Linked DNA regions of Homo sapiens. The protein of the gene in region 1 purifies or fractionates together with the protein of each later gene. This does not show direct contact. Each region holds a gene or a part of one and is shown on either strand. Other genes may lie near its edges.

What was found.
Region 2: the proteins of TRIO (region 1) and NAV2 purify together in Homo sapiens (affinity purification with western blotting, with the first as the bait; one study listed by BioGRID). This does not show direct contact.
Region 3: the proteins of TRIO (region 1) and EIF2S3 purify together in Homo sapiens (affinity purification with mass spectrometry, with the first as the bait; one large-scale study listed by BioGRID). This does not show direct contact.
Region 4: the proteins of TRIO (region 1) and NOC2L purify together in Homo sapiens (co-immunoprecipitation; one large-scale study listed by IntAct). This does not show direct contact.
Region 5: the proteins of TRIO (region 1) and NAV3 purify together in Homo sapiens (affinity purification with western blotting, with the first as the bait; one study listed by BioGRID). This does not show direct contact.
Region 6: the proteins of TRIO (region 1) and ARHGEF7 purify together in Homo sapiens (affinity purification with mass spectrometry, with the first as the bait; one large-scale study listed by BioGRID). This does not show direct contact.
Region 7: the proteins of TRIO (region 1) and PPM1F fractionate together in Homo sapiens (co-fractionation; one large-scale study listed by BioGRID). This does not show direct contact.

The regions. Positions count from the first base shown.
Region 1 is NC_000005.10:14,506,842-14,510,341, reverse strand, and holds the end of TRIO (triple functional domain protein), read right to left. Parts: intron 3,221-3,500; coding exon 3,082-3,220; intron 2,463-3,081; coding exon 1,920-2,462; 3' UTR 138-1,919; downstream 1-137. UniProt on the Homo sapiens protein: Guanine nucleotide exchange factor (GEF) for RHOA and RAC1 GTPases. Involved in coordinating actin remodeling, which is necessary for cell migration and growth. Plays a key role in the regulation of neurite outgrowth and lamellipodia formation.
Region 2 is NC_000011.10:19,936,337-19,939,836, forward strand, and holds part of NAV2 (neuron navigator 2), read left to right. Parts: intron 1-3,324; coding exon 3,325-3,437; intron 3,438-3,500. UniProt on the Homo sapiens protein: Possesses 3' to 5' helicase activity and exonuclease activity. Involved in neuronal development, specifically in the development of different sensory organs.
Region 3 is NC_000023.11:24,061,456-24,064,955, reverse strand, and holds part of EIF2S3 (eukaryotic translation initiation factor 2 subunit 3), read right to left. Parts: intron 2,541-3,500; coding exon 2,382-2,540; intron 756-2,381; coding exon 621-755; intron 1-620. UniProt on the Homo sapiens protein: Member of the eIF2 complex that functions in the early steps of protein synthesis by forming a ternary complex with GTP and initiator tRNA.
Region 4 is NC_000001.11:949,257-952,756, reverse strand, and holds part of NOC2L (nucleolar complex protein 2 homolog), read left to right. Parts: intron 1-156; coding exon 157-345; intron 346-617; coding exon 618-757; intron 758-1,518; coding exon 1,519-1,630; intron 1,631-3,500.
Region 5 is NC_000012.12:77,833,894-77,837,393, reverse strand, and holds part of NAV3 (neuron navigator 3), read right to left. Parts: intron 1-3,500. UniProt on the Homo sapiens protein: Plays a role in cell migration. May be involved in neuron regeneration. May regulate IL2 production by T-cells.
Region 6 is NC_000013.11:111,282,810-111,286,309, forward strand, and holds part of ARHGEF7 (rho guanine nucleotide exchange factor 7), read left to right. Parts: intron 1-329; coding exon 330-554; coding exon of another isoform or gene 555-590; intron 591-1,595; exon of another isoform or gene 1,596-2,017; intron 2,018-3,337; coding exon 3,338-3,431; intron 3,432-3,500. UniProt on the Homo sapiens protein: Acts as a RAC1 guanine nucleotide exchange factor (GEF) and can induce membrane ruffling. Functions in cell migration, attachment and cell spreading. Promotes targeting of RAC1 to focal adhesions. May function as a positive regulator of apoptosis.
Region 7 is NC_000022.11:21,946,349-21,949,848, reverse strand, and holds part of PPM1F (protein phosphatase 1F), read left to right. Parts: intron 1-3,500. UniProt on the Homo sapiens protein: Dephosphorylates and concomitantly deactivates CaM-kinase II activated upon autophosphorylation, and CaM-kinases IV and I activated upon phosphorylation by CaM-kinase kinase. Promotes apoptosis.

The DNA.
Region 1 (3,500 bases):
GTGTGTACAGAGGGTTCTCAATCCAGTACATTCTGCCACCTCCCGCCCACGAGAAGTCTCTGCATCAGTCTCTCCCTCAGCCATCTGTCTTTCTGATTCAACAGTGACCAATTTAAATAAAAAGCCTAACACAAAAATCAGGCAAATATGTTTAATTTTTTAAAATAACTGATGGCAAAATAAAATATTTACATCACATCATACTGTGTAAACATGTAAGGTCTCTGTACAAAGAAATATACATGCAAAATAATGTAAAAATTTAACTGAAATAATAAAAGAAACAATACACAAATAAAAATTATGAGGTTACGAATACACATCCAGTTTCGAATCCAATTTCTTTTAAAAAGTTTCTGTACAATTTTACAAGAAGAAACAAACAAAAACCCAACAAAAGAATAAATAAAATACACTGGAAGCTGCAAAGCTTAACTACGCCAGTTTATGGCTCAAGACCCAGGTGTCTGGCTGGCTTGGGAAGCGGGCTGGTCTCTTTTGTAGTGCAGTTCACACGAGAAAGATAAAAAGACATCCAGAAAACTTCGAGGGTGCCCAGAAACCCAGCCTCCTTGAGTTGAAAGGACTCCCCACACCAGTGCGAATGCTGCCACAGTGACTCGGGCATTGGGTACCAGCCGCGGGGCGGCCAGTGCTTAATCGGCTTTTATTTCTTACCAAAAGCTCAAAACCCAGCCAATTTTTATACAGAAAGTTCAACGTCAAAAAGTCTAAAAAGTAGTAAATGTCCAGACTGATTTTGGGAAAAAAAATAATACTTTGGCATTCTGAATAATAGCATAATAAATTTTAAAACATTACCCTATTATCCAGTTTTATATTCAGAGTATGAAATCACTTTTACAGTCCTCAAAACCAACAAATTTCACGAAAAGTCTCTTTGAACCGATGGCACAGGGCTACGACCCTACCCACCCACCCGCCAACCCCAACACACACACAAAACCATAAAGCTCACCATACGAAGTATGTGCTTTTTCTATATATTTATTACAGGTACAACAGAGGTCTTCATAAATAGTTGCATAAAATGTTAAAGCCACAACATTGCACATGATATGAAGTAAAACCAAAAAACCCCCAATGAGTGCATTTACAGTATTTTCATCTGACTGTGTACTGCTCCACAATCTGATTGACGGCTTGGGGCAGGAACAGGGGGAGGGGCAGTGGGGCAGGACCCAACCTGATGTCTTCATGTGATGGGAAGACCCTCGGACCCCCAGAGGAAGCCCCAGGTGGTGGGTGGGGGGTGGGTAGGGGAGGCAGGTGGGAAAATGACAGACCGAAGGCAGGAACAGTCTTATATACAAGTAAGGCCTACATTTCATCAGAGCAAAACGATTCATTCTATTTTATGCAAAAGTTTGAGGTTGAATGCACGTTTCAGAAGCCACGTCGGGCGTGAGATGCACACAGACGAGGCGCCTGGAAGCTCAGAGCCGAGTGGTCTCTGAGTCCTAGACAAGGCCATGGGAGTGGCCGCCACCTAGGTGCGTCTTCCCCAGAGACGCACAGTATCTTTGTTCATTAACACCAGTGGTTGAACATAGGCATTTTGTTTCCTTGAATAAATCTTGAAAACGTTAAATTTGCAAAATTCTATTCATGTTTGTTTAAAAAAGTTATCTTTTTATTTTTTTGCAGAAACCTGAATAAAATACTGTGATACAGCAATGCGACCTCTGCCTTGGGCAGAGTGTAAGTGACGGTCCTCCACCCCAGCGCAGCTTGCAGCTCTGTGTCCAAGCACTGCTGAGCACAGCTCACTTGGAATGCAATTTCACACGATGAACATACCGGCAGCTGATCAGTTATGTTTGCTTGTTTTCTCTTGAAAATTCAGATTAACAGCTGATTGGCAGGTGAAAGAGAATGAGAAAGAACTTCTGGATAGGTCAAACTCTAGGCAGAAGCCTGCTCTGCAGAAAGTTTTTAATGCTACGGATAGGTCGAACATCATTCTGGTGTTTGCGCCGCTCAATGAAGGAAGTCAGTCTGGACGTGTCGAGGACGCCCGTGCTTCTGCCGTTGCCGGCCTGCAGCCACTGCTCCTGGAGGGCCAGCGCAGCCGAGGGACGCTTGGCGGGGTCCTCCTGCAGGAGGAAGCACACGAACTCCTTGGCCTTCTGGCTCACTCCTTTAAAGTAGTCATCTGGGAAGCTAAAGTCTAAGCGGCAAATGTTCAGGCAGGTCTCTTCCACACTGTCATCCAGGAAGGGGGACACGCCACTAAGAAGTACGTATGTGAGCACTCCAACACTCCACGTATCCGAGGTCAGGGAGACAGGGTTCCCGAGGATGATTTCAGGGGCTGCGAATTCAGGGTTCCCCAGTAACTGGTGGATGTAGTAGGTCGTGTTGAGCTGAACAGCATCTCCAAAGTCAGCCAGTTTGATGGTTGGCTTGGCTAAACTCTCATCCACCAGGATATTCTCAGGCTGGAAATCAGAATACAACTGTCATTTTCAGACCATCCAATCTTAAGCTTACTCGTGATGATGGGCGGGACTCTATGGTGAGGTGGAAGGAATCTAGGATGTCAACTAGGACAAGCCATGCATGTGCAAAGCAGGCCGGACCACTCAGCTGGCAGCCGAGGGTGAGGAGGAAGAGATGACACAGCGGAGCTGGGACCCAGATCCACACAGGGCAGCTCTCTTTGGAGATCTAAGTGCCAAGTAGCCTAATGAAACCAGGCTGCTTTATGAAGCTGGGTGTTCATTTTCCCTCCCAGCACCAAGGGGAATGCTCTCTTTCCCGCCTAAGCTACCACTGCACCCGCCACACCCACCGGGCAAAACTCATGGGGACTTTCTGAAAGTCGTGGAAGGCTGGGAGGGCTCCGGCGTTTTACCCAGTGTGCTCCTGACCGTGTGCATCACTGAACGCAAACGCTTAGAGAGAGAGATTAGCAATCAGTGTCTGCGCTGCCCCACCCACCCTTTTTGTCCCTAGTCACTTGGGGGCTCCTGGCCTGGCTTCAGAGGGGGCTCTGTGTCCCGCATGGCCAAGCCGGTGTGCTCAGACCCCCCTTCACCTGCCCGGGGCCTCACCAACCTTTAGGTCCAGGTGTGCTATCCTGCAGTTGTGCAGGTACCGGACAGCTTCCAGAACCTCCCCCAGGTGCGCCCTGATCTTCCCTTCAGTGAGGCTTCCCCATCGCACCACGCAGTCCAGGAGGCGACCCTGGTCAGCCCTAAAGAGGCAGGAGCGGGTGACTGTTATGATGCGATTTGCTTTGAAGACCTCTTTGGGCTAGTAAGAAGTAAACATGTCGGACCTGTCACCTGTTATGAATGTGTCATCGGGATCTCAGGGCCGTGCCTCTAAGGCGTGACTAGACAAGGAGGGGGATTTTGTAAAGCTCTGTTGGGAAGATGCGAGTGGGGTACAGGGTGTCTCCATCTTAAGAGGGAAGCCGGTGGTAGAGCGGCACAGTCAAGGGTCCAAACCCGCCTGTTGCGGGGGATGGCGTG
Region 2 (3,500 bases), on another chromosome or scaffold:
CCTTCTTTTTTTGTTGTTCGCTATAATCATTTGAAAGATTATAAAAGATATAACCTTTTTTTATTTCAAGCTTTTCTATCAGAAGAAAAAGTCTTAATGATAAAAAGCAAATGTCTGACAAAGAGGAGGAAGAGGAAAACGTCTATGATGTGGATCTGACTAGCCCCGTTTTTACGTTAATGCCCACTCTGGGTAACTAACGTCCTTCTGTCCCCTCTGAGTTGCCTTCATCTTTAGGGTAGTCTGGGAAGTGACGCTGGAAATAAGAGCACCAGGATACGAATCAGGACACCTGGGCCCTGTCCTTTATCAGCCCTTGGTGCCCTCTGAGGTCTTCGGCACTGGCTGCAGGAACAGGTATTGATCGAGTGTGGGTACAGAGTCCGCTAAGGGCTTTCCACATCTTAGCTCACTTCATTCTTCCCACACCTCCATGAGCTAGCAGCTTAGAGGTAATTAAGCAATTTGCCCCAAGTCACAGAACTAGACTAGAGGGGCTCATGTTTAAAACCAGGTGTAGGCTGGGCATGGTGGCTTACACCTGAAATCCCAGCACTTTGGAAGGTCAAGGTGGGCAGATCACTTGAGGTCAGGGGTTCAAGACCAGCCTGGCCAACATGGTGAAACCCTATCTCTACTAAAAATACAAAAATTAGCCTGGCGAGGTGGTGCACGCCTGTAGTCCCAACTACTCCGGAGGCTGAGGCATGAGAATCCCTTGAACCTGGGAAGCGGAGGTTGCAGTGAGCCATGATCACGCCACTGCACACCAGCCTGGGCAACAGAACGAGACTGTCTCAAAAACAAACAAACCAAAAAGCCAAGTCTGTCTAACTAGTGAGACCAGGCTCTTAACCACCAGTCTTGACTCTAAATCACTTTATCTTTATTGTCTTCATCTGGAAAATGAGAAGATTGGATTAGATTAGATTCTATAAAATGGTTTATTCTCCTTTTCTGCTCTAAAATTCTCTCCCTCAAGCTTATGGTTCACTATATATAACTTATAATTGCTCCCCCCCCGCCCACCAAAACCTCTCCATGTTAAAGTTGTTACCAAGGAGTAAAGGGAAGATGGGTCATTTTTTTAAAAATCACTCAGAATGAATTATATTTATCAATTCAGAAGTAACAGTGGATTCATCTATCACTTTATCACTTTATAGTTTACTAAGAGTTGTGTGTCACATCACCTTTCATTTTTATAGAACCAGAGGAGATTGCTATTATTATCCCCATTGTACAGATGAGGATGCTGAGATTCAAAGAGGTGGAGTGACAACTCAAGTTTTGCATGGCTAACAAGTTATAGATCTTAGACCTGGAGCTAGTCGAATATTTAGACTTCCAAGTCTAATGTTCCTTCTAGTACCTAGCATCTTCTGAGACTTAAACATTTCTTATTTATCCAGTCAACACACCCTTCTTGCGTTGCCTGTGTAGCATATGAACTTGAACTAACCTTTGCCTCTGAAGAGCTCTCAATCTAGTTGAGGAAAGATTTACATTTTCGCCAACAGGAGAATAAGGAGAGTGCTATAGGATCACATTTTAGCCAACAAGAGAATAAGGAGAGTGCTGTAGGAACTCCTGGCAAGGAGTCAAGGAAAGCTCTCAGGAAAAGATGACATGGAAGCTGCATCTTAAAGACAGATTAGCAGCGAACTAAGGAAGGAGGAGAAGGGCCTTTAGGCAGAGAGGTTGTAGTTACTGCAAAGATAAACCTGTTAAAGCCATGTGGAGAGAAGCCACATGTGGGTGCAGCATAGTAGAGTTGTATGTAAAGAGTTGGAAAGGCAGGAGATGGGGCTGGAAATAAAGGAAGAATGTGGCCATCATCTACCACAATAAGGGGTTTAGACCTTATTCTGTGGGTAATGGAAACCACCGAAGACAGTGATGTCATCACGTCAGTATTACAAAAGTCAATGAAAGATCGTGTGGGGAGTAGACCAAACTTAGGAAGAGTGTAGAATGGAGATCACAGATTCAGATGCCTAATTGGCCTCTAAATGGTCATCTAGATGGGTGGCTCAGGGTGAGTGGGCCTGTGGCAGAGGGAGCCACGCCTCTTTAGAGGGTGCAGCCACCACTTGGCACCAGCAGGTGGCGATCTGCAATAACAAAGACAGTCCTTTCCAAGCTTTATTGTTTTTACTGGACGAAGGCAGAAATGCAGATATTTATTGTGAAATATCCCGATTTTTAAATGTTGAACTAATTTTAAAACTTTAAAATATTATGCAGACCAGTAGGAATAAGTTGGGCTGGTTTCCACACCGGGCTGCCATTTGTAACCTCTAGGTGTGAGGTACCTGTTTCAAAGTACTCATAAGGCCTCAGCAGAGATGATGAGGGCTTGGACCCTGGCTGGAGGTGAAAGGAGCACAGGGAGTATGAAATCCTTTAAAGGTAAAGATAACAGAATTGAGAACGATGGCCTCAGTAGGAAGAACAAAGGAGGGAAGAACAGTTGGATGACTTGAGGTTTATCAGTACATCCCCCGTGGTCCATTCTCATTCTGGGCAAACGTTTTCTTCACAGGTAGTGAAATCGGTTGAATTAGTTCAGCATGCCAGTGCGTTAATAATGTTACATGCAGGGTCATGCATCTGAGTGTAATTATGCATTTGCATGCCATGCCTGAATGAGCAGAGGTAGCTGTGACAAGAAAACATTGCATGAAGCTGTTGCTTCAATTTGCTTGACAAATAAGGGCATGGAGAGGGTTTGGGGAAGTACAGATTTCAGTCAAGTGTTGAAATAATGATCAATGAGACCTTTCATGTCAGAAGAACTAAGCTCTGAATCAGAGACCTGGAGGGCAAACACACCTGCTTGGCACCCACTTCCGACTGGTTTTATGGTCACCTTTATAGAGAAAACCATGTCAGGAGAATTTTGGGGTGGGGGAGCTGTTAATAGAGTCATCTTTATGTTTGACTTGTTGGCATGGCTGGTTACTTAGAAGCTGTTCTTTGGCATAGGTTAAATTATTCAAATCACCCCGTACCCTCCAGCATGTGTCTGGCTAGACCTAGCATCCTGACGGAGGTTCAGAGAAGCATTCCCCAGTGAGGGATTGCAGACCCTCCATCTGGGCAATGAAAAGTTTATCTTTTACAGTTCAGCGGCTCTCTCTGTTCTTAGGACATTGCTCCACATACGGCTAATGAATTATTTAGCGTCAGTCTGCTGGTCCACTCTGTTCTGAAGCTTCTTGCTACAGGAGGTGATGGTGAGGGCTGTGGTTAGACCACAGTGGTCCAGATGTGGTAGTTGCCTCTCATGACAAGTGTGTCTGCTTCGGTTTGTGTGTGAAGGTCTCAGACGGACACTGAAGGGAATGTTACTGCCGAGTCAAGCTCAACAGGTGTGAGCGTGGAGCCCAGCCACTTCACCAAGACTGGACAGCCTGCTCTGGAAGAACTCACTGGTGAGTATGGAGCCTCAGAAATCTGTGTCTGTTGGTGATGAGGCCTTCCACGCAATACCTGCT
Region 3 (3,500 bases), on another chromosome or scaffold:
GTTTTAGTCAGGAAGTTCTAACACCCTAAAACATTATGATTCCATGGAGAATACTGTATTACTCCATCTTGATCATGTACCATATATTAAGCACAGAAAGGTTAGCAGTTGTTTTTGGGTTTTTTTGAGACGCAGTTTCACTCTTGTTGCCCAGGCTGGAGTACAATGGCGCGATCTCAGCTCATTGCAACCTCCGCTTCCCGGGTTCGCGCCATTCTCCTGCCTCAGCCTCCCGAGTAGCTGGGATTACAGGCACCCGCCACCATGCCCAGTTAATTTTTTATATGTTTAGTAGAGACAGGGTTTCACCATGCTGATCAGGCTGGTCTCAAACTCCTGAACTCAGGTGATCCACCCACCTCGGCCCCCCAAAGTATTGGGATTATAGGCGTGAGCCACTGCGCCCGGCTTAGGTTAACAGTTCTTACTGTGTTCAGGACTCTGTCCCTCATTCAGTAATACAATCTAGCACTGCCAATACAATCTCAGAATTGATTTCAAAAAAATTGTATGAATTATCACCTCTGCAGAAAGAGGAAATATTAATAAACATCCTTGAAGAGGAATCACCAATGTGGAAAAGATCAGATTAAGAGTTAAAGGCAAATCCTATCACTTACCAATAAGCCGGGGCTCTGAAGTAAAGTCTCTTGGGGGTACTGGAATTTTCTTTACTATGTACTCACAAACAACTTCAATATTGTATTTCAGCTGAGCTGAAATTGGAATAATGGGAGCTCCCTCTGCTACTGTACCTATATGACAAAATTTAGAAAGATCAAAATTATACAGTTTTATAAAATTTATTCTATGTATCTGTTACATAAAACAATTAAGATTACTATAATAAAATAGATGCCTAAACCCCATATAAATGTCAGCAACAAGTGGAAAGTGGATAATTCTGTTTAGAAAGATGGCAATATTGTTTGTTTTTACTCCTGAAAATGAATACAAATCCCTGTAAGAGAAAATTTGTTACATTATATTAGTAGACATACTTAATATTAGTACAATGATAAACTTATTTAAATAAAGAAAATACTAACATTCCTGTGAAAGAGCACTCTACTAGTTGAAAAAATTTCTAACAACATGTAATTAATCTCCCAATAAATGTCAAGATAAAATTACAGACTCTGCTAATCAAAGACTGCTGGCATATATACTTTTTTTTTTTGGAGATAGGGTCTCGCTTTGTCACCCAGGCTAGACTGCAGTGGCATAATCACGGCTTGTTGCAACCTCCACTTCCCAGGCCCAAGCGATCCTCCCACTTCAGCCTCCTACATAATAGCTGGGAACACAGGTGTGTGCCACCAAGCCCAGCTAATTTTTTGTATTGACAGAGTTTTACCACGTGGCCCAGGTTGGTCTTGAACCCCTGGACTCAAGTGACCCACCCGCCTCAGCCTCCTAAAGTCTTGGTATTACAAGTGTGAGCTACCACGCCCAACCATATATATTTGCTACGTATTGATTATACGTCAAACAAGCTAGTCAAAGAAATAGACCAAACACAATTAGACTTTAATCAAATTCACTTATTACTTCTCGTGATGACAGAACTGAGTTCATAAGAAATTAACCTTTCTAAAAAGAAAAACAAGACTGAGAGAGAAAATGTCAACAATAAATCACATCTCCTCTGAAATGAAAAACATTATGCTATTAGAGAAGGGACACTCTAGAGATTTATTATTTATTTATTTGAGATGGAGTTTCGCTCTTGTTGCCCAGGCTGGAGTGCAATGGCGTGATCTCGGCTCACCGCAACCTCCGCCCCCCAAGTTCAAGCGATTCTCCTGCCTCAGCCTCCCAAGTAGCTGGGATTACAGGCATGTGCCACCACACCCTGCTAATTTTGTATTTTTAGTAGAGATGGGGTTTCTCCGTGTTGGTCAGGCTGGTCTCGAACTTCCGACCTCAGATGATCCACCTGCCTCAGCCTCCCAAAGTGCTGGGATTACAGGTGTGAGCCACCATGCCCGGCCGACACTCTAGAGATTAAATAATCACTGTCACTTCCAAATCTGAAAGCTGTTCAGTAACAAATACTGTAAGACAAGGTTTTTTAAAATTATTTTATTCATTTTACTGTCACTGAGATTTTTTTTAATCTGATTGATAAAGTTTCCAGAAAACAACCTCAGTTCTAACTTGCTGCCAGCAAAAATATACTTTAGTATATTAAATTCAGAATCACAGGTTTCATTAGTTATATCAGGTTACTAACAAGCAAAAGGTAGGGCGATAAGGCTTAAGACTTGTAAGTTTACCTTGTTTTAGATAATATATTAAAAGTTAATTTAACATCTGGTATCCAGAGTAAATGCCTCTCAAAGTGATTCATAGATTTATTTCATATTATGGCTTCTTACCTTGGACAAATGCAAGGATCTGCTCGTATTGTTCTTTAGCCTGACTTTCTTTTACCAAATCAATTTTATTTTGTAGAATCAAAATATGCTTCAGTTTCATGATCTCTATAGCAGCCAGGTGTTCCGATGTCTGAGGCTGAGGGCAAGATTCATTACCAGCTAGTTGATGAAGAATAAAAAAGATGCATATAAGAATAGCTGGAAATATCCAGAATAGGCGGGCAAATCCATAAAGAGACAAAGCAAATTATGGGTTGCAAGGGGCTGGGGGAGGAAAACATGTGGACTGACGCTTCATGGGCATGGGGTTTCCTTTTGCGGTGATACAAAAGTTCTGATACAAAAGTTCTGGAACTAGATAGTGGTGAAATGACAACCACTATGTTGTAGAAAATTGTCAATGTGCTTAATGCCACTAAATTCTACCCTGTAAATACATAAAATGGTACATTTTATGAGTCTCTTTTGCCACCCACTCCCCGCCCCAAAAAAAGTTGGCATCTAATAAAGGAGACTTCTGAATGTTCTAACCCTAATAAGGAAGATATTATTGCCAGGTATCCACCTTTTGGCCCTGCTTCATCCTCTGTTGCCTGCATTCACTGGAACCTCCCAATTGTGTGGCTCCCAATCCTGGTCCTAAGCAAGAAGCTTAAAATCAGCAAGTTTGGCTTTTCTCAGGGTCTGCACTCAGCTTTTGCTCAGGTATGAGGTATAGCCCTCTAACTCTCTCCAGTTTTAGAAATGTTCTGGCCCAGGCAAGCTCCTGAGAAGTAGAGAGTAATTAAAAGGGAAAAGCACTTAATACTGTCTATGAATTTTTACTAATATCAGAGGCTACTCTTCAACTGAGGGAGGGAAGAATGCTATTGTGAAGATAACCAACAGTGTATTATAAAGAAATAGGCATGTTTTGTTGAGCACTCTAATGATCAACCTCCTCAAGTCGTGATATTCAAGTGTCCTGACTATACCAACATGGCATGCTTTAAAAAAAAAATTTTTTTTTTGAGACTGAGTCTCACTCTGTCTCTGTCACCCAGGCTGGAGTGCAGTGGCGTCACCTCGGCTCACTGCAACCTCCGCCTCCCAAGTTCAAGCGATTCTCCTGCCTCAGCC
Region 4 (3,500 bases), on another chromosome or scaffold:
GTGGGCACTTGGGGGTGGGGGCTGTGCAAGGGGCTACGGCTCTTCCTCGAGGCCCAGCTCTGAGGGAAAGGCCCAGGTGTTCACAGGGGCCCTGGAGTGGGCGGTGGAGGTGCATGGCCCTGATCCCAGGTGGCTCTGACCCGGGTCTCTCCGCAGCAAATGTACATCACGTATGTGAGGAACTGCAAGTTCACCTCGCCTGGTGCCCTCCCCTTCATCAGTTTCATGCAGTGGACCTTGACGGAGCTGCTGGCCCTGGAGCCGGGTGTGGCCTACCAGCACGCCTTCCTCTACATCCGCCAGCTCGCCATACACCTGCGCAACGCCATGACCACTCGCAAGAAGGTGTGTGGTGGGGCCCTTCCAGGCTCATGCTGGGCATGGGGTGGGGCAGCCCAGGTGCCCGACCCAAGGCAGGGCCTGGGGCCTCCCCGAAGCCCCTGTCTGGAGACAGCCCAGCACCCTGGTGCAGTCGGTCCTTGCAGGTGGGGGAAGGGTGGATGGGTTGAGACCCCGTGTGCAAGATGAGGAAATGATTCCTGTGCCGGCCCAGGAGGAACGTGCATCAGCCTGACTTGTCAGCCTGGCCAGTAGCTGACGTGGTTCTCTCTGACCAGGAAACATACCAGTCTGTGTACAACTGGCAGTATGTGCACTGCCTCTTCCTGTGGTGCCGGGTCCTGAGCACTGCGGGCCCCAGCGAAGCCCTCCAGCCCTTGGTCTACCCCCTTGCCCAAGTCATCATTGGCTGTATCAAGTGAGTTGTGGGGTGGGCAGGGTTGTGCGGGAGGGTCAGGAGAAGCAAATTTGCTGGGACTGTGTGGGCGGTGCCTCTGGCGTTCAGGGCCTTGGGGCCTGAGTCTGTGTCCTGGCCGTCCCTGAGGAAGGGCTGGGGTCCCTGTACCTGCTACGGGGAGATGCTCTGGATTCTGGAGAGCTAGGGCTGGTGGGCACCTGTGACATGAGCTCCTCCAACAGCGGTTTAGCCGCCTCGGGTGCCACCCAGCGTGTGTTCTGGGGGCTTGTGTGCAGTTTGCAGTGAGTTTGGTTCATTACGTGGGGTTCTTGGGTGGAGCACATCTGATGCAGTGAACTGCATTTTGGGTGTGAGCGCTTAGGAGGGTCCAGGCACGGTAGGGGCTGCAGCAGGAAAAGGTGGGAGCAGTACTGTGGCCTCTTTGGCCAGGAGGGGGCATCTGTCTGGCTGAGCCTTAGAAACTCAAGGCTGGGAAGGGAGGTGGGAAGTCCAAGGGAAGAAGTAGGAAAGGCGGGAACAGGGAGGAGAGCAGGCAGGAACAGATGACCCCTGCCACCGTGTTGAAATAAAGCTGAAAGCTGGGTAAGGTACCTGCAGCCCCATAGCTGGGCAAGGGGTGCAGGTCCCTGGGGTTCAGACGTGCCTTGTCCTGCTTTAGGGGTCTGATGTCGGTGAGTGGGGGAGGAGGTCCAAGACAGCAGGGGGAGGGGCAGGGGCTGCCAGAGCCGGGGCCTCTGCTCACTCGGCCTTCCCACCCCCAGGCTCATCCCCACTGCCCGCTTCTACCCGCTGCGAATGCACTGCATCCGTGCCCTGACGCTGCTCTCGGGGAGCTCGGGGGCCTTCATCCCGGTGCTGCCTTTCATCCTGGAGGTGAGTGAGGCTGTGGTGGGCGTGTGGCACCTCTGCCTGCTCCTGTAGGGAGCATCTGCTGCTCCGGGCGTCTGTGCTGAGTTGTCCGGCGACTTCCCGGAGCCCTGGCCGCCTCCTTGTCACGGGTGTCACGAGGACAGTGCTCCTCCGTGTGCTGGGGGCAGTGTTGGGGAACGTGGGACCACTGGGGATGAAGGCGGCTGCTGCTAGGGCTGTGCTTGAGGATGCCGGGACCTGACCCTGTAGGTGCTTGCCCAAGACTGGAGTAGGCAGGAGGCGAGATGGGCCAAAACCCAAGTCTGATTGCTGAACTGTACACTGAACAGTGCCCTGCCCTGACAGTTGTGTGCATGTGTATGCATTTGTATGGGGGATGTGTGTACATCTGGGTGGGTGCGTTTGTCTGTGCATGCATGCGTGTGTGTGCACCATCTGGGTGCATGGGTCTGTAAATCTGTGTGTGTGTGCATATCAGTTCATGTGTGCATCTGTATGTGTGTATGCACGTGTATCCATGAATGCCTGTGTGCCTGCAGGTGTGTGCATCTGTGCGTGTGTACACCTGTGTGTATGCATGTGTGTACCTTTGCGTGTACCTTTGCGTGTGTGCACCTGTGCATGTGTCTTTGTATACCAGTGTGTACCTGTGTGTACCTGTATGCATGCACATGCGTGTGTACCTGTGTGCACCTGTCTGCATGTGTGTACCTGTGCGTGTGTGCACCTGTGTGCATGCATTTGCGTCTGCATGTGTCTACCTGTGCATGCATGAACCTTTGCATGTGTGCATCTGTGTGCATGCATGTGTGTCTGCGTGCATCTATGTACCTGTGTGCACCTATGTGCATACACACGTGTCTGTGTGCACTTGTGTGCATGCATTTGCATCTGCATGTGTGTACTGTGCGTGTGTACCTGTGCGTGTACCTGTACACTTGGGTGCATGCATGCACGTCTGCTTGTGTGTGCCTGTGCGTGTGTGCACCTGTGTGCATGTACGTGCGTCTACGTGTGTGCCTGTGCATGTGTGCGCCTGTGTGTACCTGTGTGTATGCATCTTTGCACGTGCACATGCCACTCAGGTAGGGAAAGATTGGAGTCCGAAGTTTCAACTTTCAGTGGGTGGGTTAGGCCCCACCCCGCTGTAAATTTAGGAATTCACGATCTCCACCCTGTTTATCTAATGAGTTCTCAGCCTCATGAAGGCCCAGAGTCGTGTCACAGCTGTCCTTGGGGCTGGGTCCCCAGGTTGCTGGGTCCAGAAGGTATGGAAGCCCCAGGCACGTTCTGATTCCCCTTCCACTGAGGCAGGGATGCTGAACATCTTTAGGAAGCCATGTTCACTCCCATGGCAGCCAGCAGTGGTCTCTGATTGCCCAGCCCTTGGCCTGGCCCCTGTGTCTGTGGGCCTCCAGCTCTGCTGCCCAGCTCCAGGCATGCTTTGTGTCTGTTTCCCTTGTCCAATCTCCTTGGCTACGTGCTTTCTTACTCTCTTGCAGTGTCTGTTTCTTCACTTGTGCACTGCCCTGGTTCACTGCAGCCGCACCCTGTAGGCCCCTCTCACGCAGGGATGCAGGCCTCTCCTCTCCGGAAAAAGCAAACCCTAAAAGCTAAAACAAAGCCCTCAGCTGTAGGCCGTGCCTGCCCTTCCCCGGTGCCTGGACAGGAAGCCAGTCGCCTGCCCATACTTTTGGCCCAGGCTAGAGAAGGGCAGTGTCCTCCCAGAGGTTCATCAGTACCAGGGCGTTTTCCCATCTGGACCTGAGCTCAGCTGTCTGGCAGCCACCCCTGCTGAGTGGGGTGTCTTGCTGGGGCCTCCACCCTTGGGCCCCCCATAATCTGCTTCTGTCCTCTGGTGCCCCAGCATGTA
Region 5 (3,500 bases), on another chromosome or scaffold:
TTCTCCTAAATATCATTACCAGTGTCATTTGGTCTCATTCTTACATAAGATCTTTCTCCATTGTCTACCTGCTGTTTTCCATAAATATTATGCTTCATTTATAGTTGTTTACTTCCCTTTTGAGGAAAAGTTATGTAAACTTTTAAAGTTTAAAGTTTAAACTTTAAAAGTTTACATAACTTTTCCTCAAAAGAATGTTTTTACTCTATATATCTGAGTCCTATCTGCTCATTAAATTTCAAAAATTCGGTCTTTTCTGAATGCTCCATTCATATACAATTTCTCTCAGCCCTAACATTCTGCAAAAGAATTGTCCACATTAGCAATACTATTTATACAATACATTTGCATGACAATATTATTTATGCTTATTTTAAATATTTATTTTAACTACTGTTTTTGTGTATTTTCTGTTTTCAAAGCATTAGTGCCAGCTCTGTGTGAACACAACAGCAAGAAATAATTCTTACCATGGTTGCCCTTAACTAGCAGAGTGAATAGGAATTAAATAAGCATACATTCTACCATGGACATAAACGCCTCTACTCTTTGAATAAATTTCTTTGGATTGCCCCAAGCGGATGTAATCTCTCCTCCCTTATAGCATCCACACCAATTTGTCTATACTTTTATTTGACCTTTGAAATAATCTTAAATAGTGGGTAAGATTTGGATGATAGGGTAAACCCAGAAAAAATATTGCTGTTACATCATTAAGAGAAAGTATAAATAAAATAACATAGAAAAAAGTCTTCCTTTGAACAAACTTTAATTCAAATTTTGGATTTTGTTACTAGTTAACTGTGTGATCCTATGTATGACTCCTACTCTCTCTGTTTATTTCTCTGTAAATGTAGATTATAATACTTTCTTTGAAATGTTTTAAGAATAAAGTAAAAAATTTTCTATAAAATACAAGGCTTGTCCACAAAAAATAATTGCTTTCCATAATAATGTAAAACAGAATCTTGAGTTTGCACAAGTAATCTGAGAGGGAAGGAATGAGTGAGCCCAAGACTGGAAAGAAGTTGGAAATGAAAATAGGAGTAAAAGAAAGGTGGCAGACCAAGTTGGAAGGAGACTGGGGATTGAGATGTAAAAGCCAGGAAGTGCTCCACAGTAAGTATGGCCAAGAAACTTTCATGAACAGGGATGTTTAATGCTTAATTGGATGTTGTTTGCTGAGCTGTGACAAAATAGAACACTCTTTCTTAACCTTAACTTCCAGAATGTTAAGTAAAGGTTCCAAGGCAAAGTGACTCTGTTCTTCATTTGGGTGTATGCCCAGGAAGAATGGAAAAACAAATCCATATGAGAGAGATTAGAAAATTTGAGATAAGAAAGAAATCAGAACAAGATATAGCTAAGGAAAACATAAGCCCTTGAAATATTGTGGAGGATTTTCCAACTGCATATGACATAGAGTCTGGAACTAGTATTATTTATTTGTTAAAGGACAGTGGGACTAAACATTCTGAAGAAATTGGGACACCCAGGAAGAAGACATCTGGGATGTAGCAGCTAGATGGAGCTATGACGGAAATAGAGAAAGTGACAACTGGGAGACAAGAATGCCTGAATGAAGACATTATAAGATATGAGAAGCAAATAAAGTTTTCTTCTTAAGCAGGATGGTGAATATGCTGCATGGATGTGGGTAGAGAGACACAGGAGGAGACGATACCAATTTGGAATCACTGAAATAATTGATAGGAAACTTTAAAGGCCATCAAAGGATGAGCAATTGCAGAAGAAGATAAACCCAAGCTATAATACTGAAGTAAAATTCTCAACTTCTGGCAAGTTATGGGATGTGAAATGGTGATGTACTTTACCAGATATTAGTCTAGGAATTCGGGATTAGATGACTGGAATGATGGCATTTGCACTAATTGAAACAACAGGTGAAGGGAGTGACAACTGAACACACATTTCTGACACTGTCATATGTAAATTTGTTCTCTCAAACCAGATCATAAAACTGTTTGGTACAAGGACTAGCAGAGTACCCCACATAAATGTTTCTTAATGACAGTCGTCTATTGTGGGTACTATCAATAGTATCTTTTCCTAGAAATTGAACCCATAATTCTTAGCTGAGCACATGGCTGCCTAGAACAAATACTACATTTTTCAGTCTCCATTGGAGCAAGGTAAGGCCTTGGAACTATAACGAGGCCAGTGTGGAAGAATATTTAATAAAACAGGGTGTATCTTTTTAATTAAGTGGAGTGCAATTATCTACTCAAGACTATGAGGTGTGAGCCACAAATCGATGATGGCAACCAAAATAGAGCCTGGTTCCCTGACAACTTCCTGAAGTCTCCCTACCAGCCATACATGGACTGCTCAACTCCAGATTTCCTTTACATGAAAATGAAATAAACGTCTATCTTCTTTATGCTATTGTTATGTTGACTTTTCTGCTTTTGCAGCCAAGTCTAATTCTCTCTAATATAACTACCTTGTTCGATTTTGCTATTTACTTCAGTTCTGGGTTTTTTTTTTTTTCCCAAAAGCTAAAATAACTCTACATATACTTCTTTTTAACATTTAGAAATATTCTGAACTGCTGACCAGGCATTCTTTACATTTGTTTGAAAACATTTTTAATCTGATAAGTGGCATGGTGAAAACATCCCTATAAATACAACTTTGCTTACCACAGAGGCTTATTGGGATATCAGATGTTTGATTAATATGTTTGCTAACCAAAGAGATCAACCAAAATTATATTGAAAACAGTGCTTATAGTGCTCAAATCCTAGGCCAAGGTCATTTAGCAAAGTGGAAGTTTCACTAAACCTACAGAAAAGATAGCCATGGTCAGCAGAGACAGTGTCTCTCTCTATTCTTGCCATTGAATCCATACAGACTTGTGGATACACAGAAGATTAGAATGGAATTTTATGGCATTTCTTTTAATTATTTGCAAAAAGATAAATATTTTTAGTATTTTGTTGATAATTTATGTTTCCCTGCTTTTTACTCTGAATTGTTCACTTTGAACTGAGAACTATAAACCCATAAAAAATATTTTATTTTAACTGATTTTTCTCACATGGACAATGCTATGTTAGACATAGAACTCCACAAATCATCCATTCCCAACCCCTTGTTTTATACATAAAATTGATACAGGAAGGGGGCAGGGAAGTGCTGTGTAGAGAAAGATGGGGTCCCTGGCTAGGGCTCCACCCCTGGGCCTGTGCCCATGGACCTAGTGAGGACAGGCATTTATGTTTTCATGCCCAAATGTTGCATTGTCTAAGACCACCCTGGCCCACCACCTCCCCATTCTGTGCCTATAAAAACCCCGAGACCTTAGCAGGCAGAGACAAAAATGGCTGGACATCGAGAGGAACACACTGGCGGAAGAACACACAAGCGGCTGGACGTCGAAAGGAACACATAAGCGGCTGGACGTCGAAAGGAACACACCAGCAGAAGAGGACACCGACAGGCACCTGCAGACACCGGCAGGCCATCGACTGCAGAAC
Region 6 (3,500 bases), on another chromosome or scaffold:
TGAAGTACCTTTTTTCTATAAATGTTACTCCGTAGCTAATAAATGTGGCTAGTGGATGTCTTTTGAGTGCTGGGGCCCCAGCTAGAGCTGCCCCTCCTGTCTGGGGCAGACGCCGTGAGGAGCCCCACGCTCGGCCCAGGTGGCGCGAGCTAGTGTTTGGCCCCAAAAACTGACTGCTGAGAGCCAGAGATACGAATGAAATGATAAATCCTGAGGTTTATTTCACATGGAGTGTTTAAAGAGCAGAAGGAAGTGCGTGATAAGTGCCCTTTCGCGGTGAGCACGCGAGTCTCATGTTCTCTGCCCTTCCCGCTCTGTGCCCTTGGCAGCTCCCCTCCCACCCGGTCACTCCGTCCAGCAAGCACGCAGACAGCAAGCCCGCGCCGCTGACGCCCGCCTACCACACGCTGCCCCACCCCTCCCACCACGGCACCCCGCACACCACCATCAACTGGGGACCCCTGGAGCCTCCGAAAACACCCAAGCCCTGGAGCCTGAGCTGCCTGCGGCCCGCGCCTCCCCTCCGGCCCTCAGCTGCTCTCTGCTACAAGGAGGTGAGGTCCCTTGACCACTCAAACAGCCAGATGACGGTGAGCATGCCTCGGGCCCTGGGTGTGCCCACGTGCTGGGCCTTCTGTGTACAGCAAAATGCACCCTAACTCCTAGAGAACTGAGAAGGGGGGGTCTGCCTTGGTTCTCTGGTTATCTGCTCTGCTGCTGAGAGGCCCGTGGTAACCTGTGTGGGAAGGCGATGTGCAGGGTCCCCCTCCTTTCTGCCATGCACAGGGGGGCCTTTACTGCACTTGCCGGAGGAGTGTGCCGCCAGGGGCCAGGAGCTGGAAAGGCGCTGAGCCCAGGTGGCTTTCACTCCCTGTGTGTGAGGCCATCGCTCAGCATCTGCACGCTGTCTGCTGCGTCTAACGACCCCTCCTCTAGGTTGGGGATCCTGTCCAGGAGCCCTGCATTTTGTCATCCAGAAGCCATTTGAGATGAAGAGAACATTTACTAATACAAATGAAAAACAATCACTTAGGCGGTTTCCCCCTTTGATGCATAAGAAATCATGATGCGGTCTTTGCTTGTCTCTGTTCTCATCCGGCATTTTTATATTTGCTAGGCGCAAATAAAGTACGATTCCAATGAATAAATAGAAGTGTTAACACTTCCTTACACTTTTACCTAAACCAGCTTGGATGAGGAAAGGAAGTGTCTTTAGAAATCTGTTCTGAGAAGTACTTTCACCTGAGGAAGCTGATAATTGAGATGAGAGTTGTTTTCATAAGCAGTTGAGCGTGCATGGTGGTGAGGTATGAGGAGTGGCGGTGAGAGTGTGGGTATCGTGCGCGTCAGTGTGAGCAGCAGTGCCCGTTGGTGGGGTGTGAGTGAGCGTGAGGATGGTGACACGCTCTTGCCTGGCATTGTGCCTCTGTGTCTGGTCAAGGCCACATTTGCCAAGGGAACTGGAGCAGACTTTTTCTACATTCTTGCCGGCAGCCCTGGGGGTTTTAAGGCCCACAGGAAAGTACTGTATGAGAAATTAGGATCTGTGCTTTTCATTTTTTGTTCTGAGTCTTTGTTTTTATGATATCTTTCAGGTAATCATGTGTGCAAGTCAGAATTTCCATTTTCTATCATGGGAAGTTACTTGAAGAATGTTGCTGTTCCTTATTGTATACTTTAGTGTGCACAGTCTAAAGAAAAAGTGAGCTACTACAAGAACTGGTGGAGACTGAATTACTAGGGAAGAAAATTGGGATAAAACTGTTGGGCAAAGAAGTAGAAAGGGCAACGGAAGGGGTATTGAAGTGAAGATAAACAATTTTTTTTGATAAGTCTGGCTGCATTTGCTTTGCCAACTCCACACTGGGAGAGAAGGGCTCACACCGAGCAGCTGCCGTCCAGTGTTGCTGAGCACCGCCCAGCAGTAGCGTGGAGAGTGATCTTGCAGGGTGTGAGAAGAGGACATGGAGGCTCGTGGAGGCCGCTCTGCAGCCCGCTCTGCCTGGCTCTGGCTCAGGTGTGCTGTGTGCTCTGTGACCCTCTGCGCCTGCAGGTGCCCTCGGAGCACGTGAGGGGCGGGCGTTGGCTCTTCAAGGCTCTCCATCTCAATTTGCTTCGAATTAGGGAAGCCATGAGCACATGTGTATAAATGTGTCTTCTGGAACAGATTGCTGCTGCATTTCTAAGAGCTTTCCAATTTTTTATAGAAATACTTTTGTTTAACTTTTTGAAGGCTATTTTAGATTCAGAGTTTGTTACGTGGCTGTATTGGGTGATGCTGGGGTTTGGGCTTCTGGGGTACCTATTACCCAAATAGGAAACATTGTACCCAATGGGTAGCTTTTCAAAACTCACCCCCATCACCTTCCGCCTTTTGGAGTCCCCAGGGTCTGTCATTTCCATGGTCATGTCCATGTGTACCCATTGTTTAGCTCCCAAGAAAAGACTTTTAAAGATAATTTTAAAAACCAAGCTTTGTTTCCTCTGTTTCCAGCCTGGTTCATTCCATAGCACATCTCATCTTCTGAGTCTTGGTCTCGCGTTTAGCATTCGTGATGGTTTATGTCGTTGGGGTGATGCAGAAACCAGCCTTTTTTTGATATCGGTATTTAACACGTGCTTGACAGTTGACACCTTACCTGCTCTGTTGGGACTTGCTTTGCTCACTTTGTTTTTTGCCGTCGTCTTCTGTGCTTGTTTGAAAAGCTGTTTGAAGAGGTAAGGGGTGGGCCATTCCGTTGTGAACACTCTGAGCTGGTGTGCATGTGGCCCCTGCACAGCAGCCCTGGCCGAGCTTGGCTGTGCTCCTGGCACTCAGAGTCAGGTAGCTGAGCACTCGCTCCCTTTTCTTCTCCCTGAAACTTCAAATATTTTCTTAAAGCAATTATTTTTTACTTATCTGTCATTTAATGACAACCTTAGTTTCCTCCTCTCTTTCCAGTTAGCTGTGCCAGGGGATAGGTCTGTCCTAGGGAGCAGCTGCCCCCTCCTCTCCTCCTCCCTCAGGAGCGTGCAGGATGTCTGTGCACACCAGCGCCAGCCTGCCTCCTGGTGACACCTCTCATCACAGGACTAACAGGACCCAAATGACACGAGGGGTTTTATTAGAATTAAAAAAAAAAAATTAGCCAATGACTAATACTGAAAATGCCCTATTGATTTTTAAAAATTAACGTTCAGAAGCTGGTAAAGAAAAATCAAAGTAGGAAAAGGCGAGAAGCTCTTATCAGTGGCTATAATAATTTGGGGTTTTATACCTTTACAGCAGCCTTTCTGATATGCCAGTGAAAATGATTGGCTTTAGAGTATGTTAGCATTTTCTTTTGTCTTTCCCTAGGATCTTAGTAAGAGCCCTAAGACCATGAAAAAGCTGCTGCCCAAGCGCAAACCTGAACGGAAGCCTTCAGATGAGGAGTTCGCGTCCCGGAAAAGTGAGTACCTGCGGTCCGTGTGGTGGAGGACGTGGCCTCCTGGTCACGTAGGCCATGGCTTTCCTGGGA
Region 7 (3,500 bases), on another chromosome or scaffold:
TAGGAGGGTGAGCACCCATTTGGTGTGCAGTGGGGCCCTGATCCAGGAGGAACCAGCTGCCAGTCGCATTTGGTCAGACTGGTCCAGGCAGGCGGTGCTGGGATGCAGGAGTCCAATGTCCCTCCCATGCCCACCCCGGGCTCTTGGTGATTTGCACAGGCTCATGCACACGTCCCTCTTATTCGGAGTTTTTCACTGGTGTGCCCTGCTCAGGAAAGCCCAGCACCAGGCTCCGCTGCCTCTGGTGCTCTCCCAGCTCTCCCTACTCCCTGCGGCTTGCCGCTGGCCTCCATGCCATTCCTGATGCTGTCTCTTCCAGTTGATCCCTCAAAGAACCACAGCACTGTCCCCTGCCCCTCCAGGCACTCCCAGGGCTGCCTCTGGTTTCCCTTGGTGAGGAATTTCTCCTTCCTGCCGGGTGTGCCATGGTGTACGTCAGATTCAGGAGCTTATTGGGAAAAGGAAGGAAATGATTCCTGTCCCTTTCGACATCTGGGCTCCAGGGAGAGAAAGCTGTGTCCTGGTTTCTCTCCTCACCCCTTGCCTTAGGTTGGTGATGCAGAAACAAGGGTGCTTGGTCCCCAGCAAGTAAGATGGCCCTGGGCACCCTGCCTTTGTAACAAGAGCAGGCAGTTGGCACAGGCCCTGAGAGTAAGCCAGCCTGTCCCCTCTACAGATGCAGACAGAGCTTCACACACACACATCATCACACCCCCCAGACCTTACTTAGTACACATGGCACAGACACCATTGAGGCATGTGCAGATAGTGGGCACAAGGCACAGAGAGAGCAGGCAGGTGGCCACAGTGAATCAGGGTCTGTAGTGCAGACAGGAGGAGCCACCCTCCCTGAGGGAACAGGCCGATTGTGGGGAGGGGCTCACGGCACAGGAAAGAGTACCCCAAGGTCAGGAGGCAAGAAGGAGGCACCTGCATCCCAAAAGGTCCAGCAGACGTCACCAGCAAATGGGGTGGAAGTGAAGGGTCTTGAATTCTGCCCTTGACAGTGGGGCTTTACACTGTGGGCAGGGGTTTCTCCAGGGGGGCCCTCTGTGTGCTCTAGCGGGGAGCATGCTGTCCTCTCACTTGGATCCTAATCATAAATTCACATGAGCACATTTTGTGGTGAGACAGTAGAGCCTCCAGATCACTTGGAATTGCAAGGGAGTGGGAGGAGGCCCCAGGCACTGGCAGTTGCTGGGGGCAGCTCTGCATCGTTCACATTCTCCCAGAAGCTCCAGGGGCCAGGGCAGTCCCAGGCAGAAGAGGGGCCCTTGGCCGCTTGCACTGCTTGAGGGCAGCCAAGCTTGCTGGGAAATTCACGCCATCTTCGAATGCCTTACAGCTCTGCTGGGGCATGGCTGGCAGGACGTGCCGCCTCCTCATTGACCTACTAGGGCTCCCAGCCTCTGCTCATTTCTCCAGCTCACAGTCTTCCCTTTGTCGTTTGAATGTCAGTGTCCCTCCTGCTCTCAAAGTGATTTTTCCTTTTTTGCTTTATGTTCTTTTTTTTTCTTTTTTGGTAGAGATGGGGGGTGGGGGGGGGGTGGCGATCTCACTGCCCAGGCTGGTCTTGAACTCCTGGCCTCAAGCACTCCTCCTGCCTCACCCTCCCCAAGCGCTGAGATATAGACCTGAGCCACAGCGCCTTGCCAGTTGTTTTATGTTCTTTATCCTTTTACCTGCTTGCCTTCTGTAACCTGGGTTGCATTAAATTTACTCCTACTTGTGAGTAAATGTGAACCATAGCAATAAATTTAGTCTATCCCCAGAACCTTCAGTAGCAAGCACCCCTATTCCTACGTTATTTGTATGTGTCCACTTTAAATAAATTACCTTTCAATTCTGCCTCTAAAAGAAGAGAAGGGTTTTGTGTTTTGTTAATTTACCACCCTTCACCCCTTGCATTCCAAATCCCTCACTGATCAGACATTTAACTTGGTGCTGGGACCTTTCCCTCTGCCCACCCCATTCTCTTTTGTGTTTTTTATCTTTAGGCTTCCAGAAGGCTTGTTCCAAGTTAGCAATTCCTGATAAGGACAGCCCTCTTGTGGGCTGTGAGCTCCCTGCATCTCTTACTTCCCACTCTCTTCATCCTGCACCTCAGGCCCCTGCCACAGCCGCCCTTTTAGCAAAGTTTGTAGGCAGAGTCTGTGGCTATTCTAAGACTGATGATTCTAGAAGATTCTCCTTGCCTTCTTCGTTCAGTTTTCAGAACCTGGAAGTCCTCATGAAGGTGATGGGCTGTGAAACTGTTCCCCAAATTCTCCACCCTAGAACTCGGGGTGTTCCTCAGAGTCTCATGTCCGTTTGTCACCATAAAAGAATGCAGTTTTTCTCCCTGGCTTAGTAACTGTGTAGGATTTCTTTTTTATTTTTTTCTGGATCCAATCTCATCCACTACTGCGTAGGACTCGCTGAATAAAGTTTCCCAGCCTGAGTGTTAGACAAAGCCCAAGGTGGAGTCCCCGCTGTGGGGAGGGTTTGGAGGGGTCAGGCACCCGAGAGGAAGGGGGCAGGAGAGAGAAGGGTCCATGCTGAGTGGGTGCTGGCAGGGAGGCCCAGGTGTGGGGCCTGGAGGTGAATCCCCGGGGCGACGCAAAGAACATGGAAGGGGGGGCGCTGGAGAGCTGTTTGGGTATAGGCAAGGCAGGCAGGCTGGGGAGGCGACTATGGAGATTCGGAGTTAGGAGAGAAGAGGAGCCAGAGCCACCCTGGGAGGAGGCTGTGAGGCACCATGTGCCTCTTTCCAGTGAGAGAGAAGCCGGTGAGGGAGTGAAGGCACAGGCTTTGCGATCCCTCTTTGGCCCTGTCTTCCTTCTGACACCTCAGGCGAGGGACTAACCCTCTCCAAACCTTGGGATTCTCATCTGTGAAATGGGGGCTTGTCCTGGCTCCTGGGGTGTTAGGGGCAACTCCCAGGGCTGGTCAGCTCTGGTCATCCCTAAGGACTTAGGGAGGAAGAGCCCACATGCCGCACAGTGGGGTCAGCGCCTGGAACTGTCCACAGTGCCCCTCTTCCAGCCAGGGCTTAGCAGGCCTGAGCCATTCTAGGCTCACAATTCCCTCCTCCTATTAGAGAGCATTGAATAGGCTCGATGGTGTCCCACAGCACCTCCTGTCTGTCCCAGATTAAACCTCTGCTTCTCTCCTGGCCACCCCTTGGGTGGCCCCAGCAGCCTCTGGGGATCCCTTCCTGCTCCCACTCTGGCCTATCTCCAAAACAGCCCTGGGCCGGCCTCCCGCATCTTGGCCCTTCTCTTTCCTCCCCTGAACACCACTAGAGCCCCAACAGGTGTCCCTCCTGCCATCTGGTCACCACGTCCAGGCTCACAGACCTGGTGGCTTCACTCCCTCACCTCAGAGCCCTCCTGGCTGCTCGGGACCCGTGATCAGGTTGAACCCCCTCACCTACCTCAGTGCCTGGCCTCGGCATCCCTGTCCTGCTCGTCTCTGGCCACGCTGGCCACCCTCTGCCAGGAACAGTCTTCCTCCTCTGT